Linked DNA regions of Homo sapiens: region 2 is linked to region 1. Evidence: fine-mapped expression QTL. Tissue or cell type: whole blood. Region 1 holds a variant in brackets; the other region holds the start of a gene. All regions are shown on one strand. Distances are between the middles of the regions.

Region 1 (4,350 bases):
CCCAGCTACTCGGGAGGCTGAGGCAGGAGAATCGCTGGAACCCCGGGGGCAGAGGTTGCAGTGAGCCAAGATCGCACCACTGCACTCCAGCCTAGGCGAAAGAGCAAAACTGCGTCTCAAAAAAAAAAAAAAAAGTGTTTCCTTGTCTGAAAGAGAGGTATCTGCCTGCAAGCCCCACCCAGCCTGCAGTCCCTGGTTTTGCACATCTGTTTCTGCTTGTGCCTCTCGTTCCTGACAGCCATACCATTAGCAGGCCACCTCCTAGCTATCATTCAGACCTCAAATTAGATGTCACCTTTTCTAAGAAGACTTCTTTGACCACTACTTCCTCAAAGTCTGATGCCATGACATGTAGTATGTTTTGTACTATCTCATAAAAGCTTGTCTACTTGCATACATGGTTTGGCACTCAATAAATGTTTGGCGAGTGAAGGAAAAAGTCAGGCATCAGATGCTGTGTGCTGGAGTCCATTTATTCAGGCCCTCAATTGAGAACAGCAAGGAAAGTGCCCTAGAGTGGGGAACCAGTCAGCCCACCTTCCCCAGCAACCCACCCCCCCCCGACCCTCCCCCTCCCCCCGTGAGTTTGAAGTGAACTGGTGGTCAGGTTGAAGCAGCAGGCACTCTGGCTCCTGAAGTGGCTGGGGCGATGGTGCTGCAGATAGCTGTGCACTCACAACAGGGGCAGTCAAGCCTCCCCAAGCAGTCAGTGAGAGCTGCTTCCTGGGAGCAGTGGGACAGATGTGGAGTCTGGAAGTGGGTCAAGTTGCAATCACAAGACCACTAGTCCTCACTCCTGCAGATGCTTGCTTTTTCTATGGTTATTGTGATGTGCTCAGCTAGAGAAATTTCTAATTGCTTACAAACCAAATTCCCAGGAGCCGGGCAGATGGTGATCCAAGAGTACAAATCCAGCCCAGGCCAGAGATGGGTAAAGGAGCTGCACTAGGCTGGCCAGGGCATCAGGGAAAGCTTTTTGTCCTGATTGTAAACAGTGTCCTCTCTTCTCCCAAACCCTTTGGACTCTTGCCTGACAGATTCTGGAGGGGTTGGGATAGGGGCAGTGAGTGCATCCTATCCAACCCCACACCCCACTACCCTGACTGTAATGCCGCTGAGATCGCTCTGGCACCACCTATGGGCCTCTGATTTACTATTTTAAACCAAATACCTTTTCCAAAACCAAAACTCTGCCCGTTTGGACCAATTGTTTTGCTCCAGGGACAGGGTCTGTAACACACAACAGAGATCTGGTGTCTGGAAAAGTTGAACATCTTTAGAAGAGCATAAAGAAAAAAGTAAAAGCCCATTTCTGAGTGAGGCCGGCCAGCCCAGCTGGAGAAGGCAACAGGCTGTTGGGAGAGCCAAAGGACCACTTGGCCAGCTTGTCAGACCCTGGGCCAAGCCATTGTATAAGCTCCAAAGTATTGGAAAGAAGGAAAGAAAAAAATCGGGACGTGTTTTTAGTCTTGCTCAGGAGCCCAGAACATGCTCACAACTCCAGGAATCTGCTCTTTTCTGCAAACGGAAAATGTGATCCATGAGAACAAATTTGACTGCTGGAGTGTGTGCCTATGTTGCCCTGCCCTGTAACTTAGGGGGCGAGGACTTACACCACCTGTGACTGCTTTCCAGAGTCCCCTGTACTCCTCTGAGAAGCTGGCTCACTTTAATAGTTAAGACAGGACAGTGGCCTCAGAATCGAAATACAGAGTATGCATTTATTGACATCTGCCCTGGGCTACACTGGGTTTCTAGCAAGAACAGAAGCGAATGCAAAGGGAAATGTACAAATACAGTTAGCAACCTGGTGTAATTGTGGATACCAGGAGATGTTCTTTCCAGACTTGGTAGAGGAACTATGATCACCCTATATTTAATAGCTTAACTTTGAATGTGCACTAGAATTCCAAATTTAGCAAAGAAATAAATAAGTTATTTACATTTCAAGTAAAAGTATTGTGTTTTATTTCTTTATTTCACCACCATTTATATGTATGAACTATGATCAAGGCTTGCCTATGTCCTGTGGAGCAAGGCCAAGAAATATGCTTTATATTGGTTATTTGATCTTCAGCATCAGATTATCACTATTGCAGAGGTGGGCAAAACCATGCAAAAAGAAGAGGAAGTATATTTGCATTAATGGCATTAAATGAAGTACAGTTGAAGCTGCAGAGTTTTACCAGTGGCCAATTTCTTGTGTTTCATTTAAAGAACAGTTTCACAAAGGGGCTTTATTGTGCCATTGTGGGGGCCACGTGCCAATCAGTAGCATGGGACAAAGTAAGTAAAGGCATGAAGAAACAAACAAGCAAATTCACGAAAACAGAAGTGCTTAAATTAACCAAGTGACAGTTTGTGCATCAGTCTCACAATGGCTGTCACATGAAATGAGGGCAGAAGAGGGTGAAGTACCACAAAACTTAGTTGATCAGGGGCTGTTGAGCAACTCTAGGAAATCTCAGAGAGGCCACCACTCCAC[C/T]CTGGCGCTGGCCACCCCTGCTCGCTCGCTGCTGCCTCCTCGAGGGCACTCTTCCTTGGACAGTGCCTGCAGCAGGGGACTGGGCTGGGGTGCTTTGGAGGTACTGGAAGGCACTCTGGCGGCCTACTTGCCTCTCTACACAGTTGAAGGTGAGGGCTACTCCCACATTGCTCTTCATGATTCTGGAGGAGCCATCGGATGTGCCATCAAAGCACCGGCCGAGCGCGATCTCCTTGGCCGTGCGAGGGTCCTGGTCAGTGACAGTGTAGATGCCATAGTTGTGGCCCAGTGGGTCCAAGGGTGCCAGCATGGTGTACTCACTGGTGTCGTTGTTGACTGCAAGTGGCAAGTGGTTGACCAGGTACTCATGCAGCATGGGGTTCACACTGGCTCGACGGCAGCTGCCCTGGGGGATGACCTTCACCAGGGTGCGGTCCACACGGTCCTGATCATAGAGCATCCCACTGCACTTGAACTCCAGACAGGCAGCTGAGACATTGGGCTGGTCCCTGTCCCGAGTGCTCCTCACATCTCGGATTCCATACAGCTTCCCCACTGTCTGCCGATGAGTGCCCCCCATGTTGCGGGATCGCACATTCACTTCCAGTGGCCCCACAATCTTCACCTTGATATAGCAGGCCCTGAATTCCATCGGCTTTGGCCACCATGCCAGATAGTCTTCAGTCCAGCTCATAGGGTCATCTTCGTTGAAGGGGACTGTGTTGTAGTCATATCGATCCCCCTCAATCTGGTAGAACCGGAAGTGGGCTGCACTGGGTGGTGCCTCTTCACATGCCCGGAGGTTCTCAAAGGCATAGATGGGCCCATTGCTCTCCTCAGCTGAGTTGGGCCTTGGCTTGGCCATGCTAATCTGGAAAGCTGTCTTTTTAACCCGTGGATCCTCATGGTCCGTCCGACGGTAGTTGAGCTTGTTGAGATAGGGCTGAGGGACGCCAATTGCATTTGGGTTGAATTTAGGAGAAGACTCCACTGCTTGCAGTTCCTCCCCAGCCAGGCTTGCCAAGACATAGGCAGAGTAGGCATCAGGGGACTGGTCATCACAGAAGGCAGGCACACAGGCCCCGTTGGGGCCTGTGATGACACTGTCAAAGCGGCCCCAGGCCCTAGGGTTGGACAAGAAGCCAGTTCTAGGCTCCAGGTTAATCACGGAGATCACAACCCCCTGGATCTGCTCACTAGGCAAGAACCTCTCACTCCGGTAGGCCCTCACCTTAACAAAGCACCGCCTGCTTTCAGGAACATCCAGGTTAAAGAGCCTCCTCTCACGAATCTCCAGGTTGCCCACCAGGAAGGTTCTGTCTTCTCTTTTGTTCCTCCTTTGATTTTCAAATTTGAAATCACCTTCCTCCTCCCACAGCCCTGTGTCTGGATTGAGTGACCAGAGTTTCACTGTGGATATGTGCTCTGGCATCTTGACCTGGGTCGAGTCAAGGTGGACCTTCACTTTGCCAGCATTAAGTGGCTCTGAGGTGACCTCATCTCTGAAGTCCACAGAGAACATGCCATACGTCCGAAGGGGGAAAGTGTCTCCTTCGTCATTGATGAAGTTCAGGTCAGTCTGGGCAGCTGTGGCTGTGGAAATATTCCGGGGATCCAGGAAGGTCACACTGGCCTTCACTTTTCCTATGTAGGGCTCCCCATTCTGCCTGTAGAAACTCCTGGATGGAATCTCCAGTTCAGCCATGGGGTCTTCACCAACCACTTCCCCCAGGGGGATGATGTTGGTCTCCATGGCTTCCAAAGTGATGGGCTTTTTCCGACGAAGCATCTTGATTTCATGGAACACGGCACTCCCCTTCTTGTTGAAAGGTAGCACTTTGGTGGTGTTGACAAACTTCTGCAGC
Region 2 (4,000 bases), 81 kb before region 1:
TCTCAGTCCCCACAGAACCTTTGCATATCCTGTTCTGGATACTTGCTAAGTTCTTCCCTGTTGCTTCCCCACAATTAATTAAAAGCTGCTCAAATGCCAGGCACAATGGCTCACATCTGTAATCCCAGCACTTTGGGAGGCCAAGGTGGGCAAATCACTTGAGGTCAGGAGTTCGAGACCTGCCTGGCCAACATGGCAAAACCCCCTCTTTACTAAAAATACAAAAATTAGCCTGGTGTAGTGGCACACGCCTGTACTCACAGCTACTCAGGAGACTGAGACGAGAGAACTGCTTGAACCTGGGAGGCGAAGGTTGCAGTGAACCAAGATCACGCCACTGCACTCCAGCCTGGGCGACAAAGCGAGAGTCTGTCTCAAGAATAAAAAGAAAAGAAAAGAAAAGAAAAAGCTGTTCATTCTTCAGAGCTCAGCTGAAACATCACTTCCTCAAAAAAGCTTGCCCTGACTCTCAAACTTGGTCAGGTCTACCTAGCACAGTGGCCTTTACAAAGTTTTTTATTTTTTACTTTTTTGAGATGAAGTCTTGCTCTGTTGCCCAGGCTAGAGTGCAGTGGCTCGATCTCAGCTCACTGCAATCTCTGCCTCCCAGGTTCAATAGATTCTCCTGCCTCAGCCTCCCGAGTAGCTGGGATTACAAGCACCTGCCACCACGCCCGCTAATTTTTGTATTTTTAATAGAGATAGGGTTTCACCATCTTGGCCAGGCTGGTCTTGAACTCGTGACCTTGTGATCCACCTGCCTTGGGCTCGCAAAGTGCTGGGATTACAGGCATGAGCCACCGCGCCCAGCCTTTTTTTTTTTTTTTTAACTATGACCCATAGTATACTTTTATTTCCTAGCATACACATATGTAAACTGAATAATGATTCTTACCCTTACTATATGATACATATTTCCTATTATTTCAACTAAATGTGTCACAGAACGCTTTTGAAGAAAAATCCTAATTCATAATCTCAGAACCATGTCTTTCTTTCAAAGCACTCAGCATATTTTTTATGATTATTGGGTTAATATCTACCTTCCTCATTGCCTGTATTCTGTATGAGGTTAGGGAGTATTTGGCATTTTGCTTAGCTTTAATAGGCACTTAAACATTTGGAATGAAATATATAAATTGGCTGATAAGTACTTTTCCTTGTAGCACTTATCACAATTGTCTCTAATGACTCTGTTATAATCATTAAGCTTCTTCACTCTAAACTCCAGGAGGTCAGGAATCCTGTCTGTTCACCCCTTCTTACATCCCTAGCACCTAACCACAGTACCTGGAAAATGGTAAATAAAAAATCATTTCCCATAGAACATAATTCAAATTCTGGTATCCAGACTGTGGCCAGCATGAATTAACAAAGCTGAGGAAAGTGTCCACTGTTCTACACAGTTATGCACTCTAACACCACTTGCCTCAGAGACCTTAATCTTTGCTTTGGAGGCTATGAAAAACCAAATTTATTCCAAAAGGCAAATGAACTCTGCAATGGAAACATACTCTTCATGTGTGGCCAGATACAGGAAGCCAGGAACTACTATGTGGATTCACAAAAAGGTAAAGAGCTCATCATATGGAAATAGCTTATAGGTTCTAAGCATTACAAAAAATCTGGGACAAACAGGTGGCAAAAAACAAATTTAGTTGATAATGTCTCATTTAATCACTATTCCATAAATCACTACTATTTCAGAATGTTCACATTCCTTTCATATATTGCATATTATACTTATTTAAATGGAATAAGATATACTTTGTACTTACCTTGTAATTACCAGGAGAACTTCCCTGCAGACAAAGCGTGTATAAATGAATAGCTACAACAGATGGCATAAGCCTAAGCTTCTTGTTACAAATGTCACATGGGCATAGGAGCATGAATGGTTTTATAGAGTGATTAAGTTGGTTGGCTTGTAGCAGCAAATTCTTTGACATCATAAACTCAGCCACTTGGGCTAAATACCCTTAGTATTTAAGAACTAATCTCTTTCTCTCATAGCTTTCTAATCTCTGTATTTACCGAATTTATTAAAAACAAATGCTTTTGTACAGTTTTTCTTTTTAAAAGTATTCCAGTTAATAATTGAAGAATGACAGAATTAAACTATCACTATTTTTGAGTCCCCTCCCCATCAATGAATGAATCTGGGTCTTATCAGTGGCCGCTAACATCACAAAAAAAGCCAAGACATCAGTGCCTCCTGACTGGAAGTACACATTATGTCTGTGAAGTATTCCTGCCAGAAAATTCCAATCTGAATGTGATCAAGCCTCTAGATCAGCACTATCCAATTGAAACGTGATCCACATATGTAATTGCACATCTCAACTCAAATAGATCACATTTCAAGTGCTCAACAGCTGAATGTGGCTACTATATTGGACAGTACAGCTCTGTTTAACTACTAAATTATAGGACATACGAGAACAGAGGGACATGGCATCACAAGGATGCAAACAACAGTGTATGGAGTCTATTCAGATCCTAATTTGAACAAAACGTAAAACATTTACGAGAGGGCAATTTGAACAATGATTGGATATTTGTGATATTCAGGAGTTGTTACTCCTTTATTTAGATGTGATAATGGCCCTGTAGTTAGATTTTTTTTTTAATCACTTAAAGCTACATAATGAAATATTTACAGATGAAGTAATTTGATGCCTGAGATTTGCTTCAAAATAATCCAGGGTGAGTGGAGGATGTATAGATGAAACAAGATTGGCCATAAGCTGATAATGATTTGAAGCTGGATGATGGGTACATGGAAAAAAATCATTGTACTATTCTCTTTACTTTTGAATGTATTTGAAATTTTCCCCAAGTTAAAAAAAGAAAAAAAAAGACTGTGGGATAACATTACAATAACACTGCTCATATTCTTGAAAGTACAATTCATTAAAGATACTACCATGAGTCTCTCTAAACCTGAAAGAACCAGTGGCTACTGCCACCACCACTACACACAGGTAATAAACCAGGAAAATCTTACAAATAAAAACCGAACAAGAGTAATGCTCATGTTTTGTTTTGTTTTTTAATTTTCTTTGTTTTGAGACAGAGTCTCGCTCTATTGCCCAGGCTGGAGTGCAATGGTGTGATCTCAGCTCACTGCAACCTCCGCCTCCTGGCTTCAAGTGATTCTCCTGCCTCAGCCTCCCAAGTAGCTGGGATTACAGGCGCCTGCCACCATGCCTGACTAATTTTTGTATTTTTAGTATAGATGGGGTTTCACCATGTTGGCCAGGCAGGTCTTGAACTCCTGACCTCAAGTGATCCATCTACCTTGGTCTCCCAAAGTGCTGGGATTACAGGCGTGAGCCACCACACCCAGCCTGATCACTTTATTAAAACCTTGCAAGGGCCAAAGGAAAAAGGGATTTTTTTTTTCTCCATCTGTGGCTAAATGCCACCTTCTTGGGTTCTGCTGTCCGAGTTTTCCTGAGTCCCTGCAGCACATTCCCTGCCCTCACAGCAGATATCTTAGTGGCAAGGCTGTCCAGACACCAAACACACATCGTACAATTCACCTTATTTCTACTCTTCCTGCATCTCATCAGAGAGCAAATGGTGGAGATATCTAACAAAAAGGCACACAGGATTGTGGAGCTCTATGAGGGTAATCATATCAGATTTTAAGATTTATAAGCGTAGACATACATTTTGGAGACATGTGGCCCTCATTCCCTATCTGTTGACTCTATATAATGTATAAATTAATGCAAATTAAACAACAGAAAAGGGACAAAGCCATTAGTATCTTGCACCCAAAAGCTTCCAACTACAGTACGTAACATTATTTCCAAAATTGATGGTATCCTTACCAATCCAGACTTGGATTTTGCAGATAAAGTTTAGCATTTAAGATTCAAATTCCTGTAACAAATGCCTGCTTAATAAATTTGAATTTTTGAATGAAAATATGTTTCATCAATGTGAAAGTGTGTGTTAAGTGATTTGGAAGGCAACAAATTGGCAGCAAAGG

The links. PIP is the estimated chance that this variant, and not a neighbour inherited with it, causes the effect. A credible set is the group of variants that fine-mapping cannot tell apart.
Region 2: it holds the start of UBAP1L, and the variant in region 1 is the best candidate, but not a certain one, in a credible set for the expression of UBAP1L in whole blood (INTERVAL, PIP 0.65).

The regions. Positions count from the first base shown.
Region 1 is chr15:65,194,305-65,198,654 of GRCh38, forward strand. CILP (cartilage intermediate layer protein) reads right to left here. Exons shown (of 9, transcript NM_003613.4): 9 at 456-4,350. The coding sequence ends at 2,427. Among named protein-coding and RNA genes, the nearest start is that of CLPX, 11 kb to the left of the region's middle. The variant C/T (reference allele first, on the strand shown) is at 2,486.
Region 2 is chr15:65,113,372-65,117,371 of GRCh38, forward strand. UBAP1L (ubiquitin associated protein 1 like) reads right to left here and starts at 1,829. Exons shown (of 6, transcript NM_001163692.2): 1 at 1,779-1,829.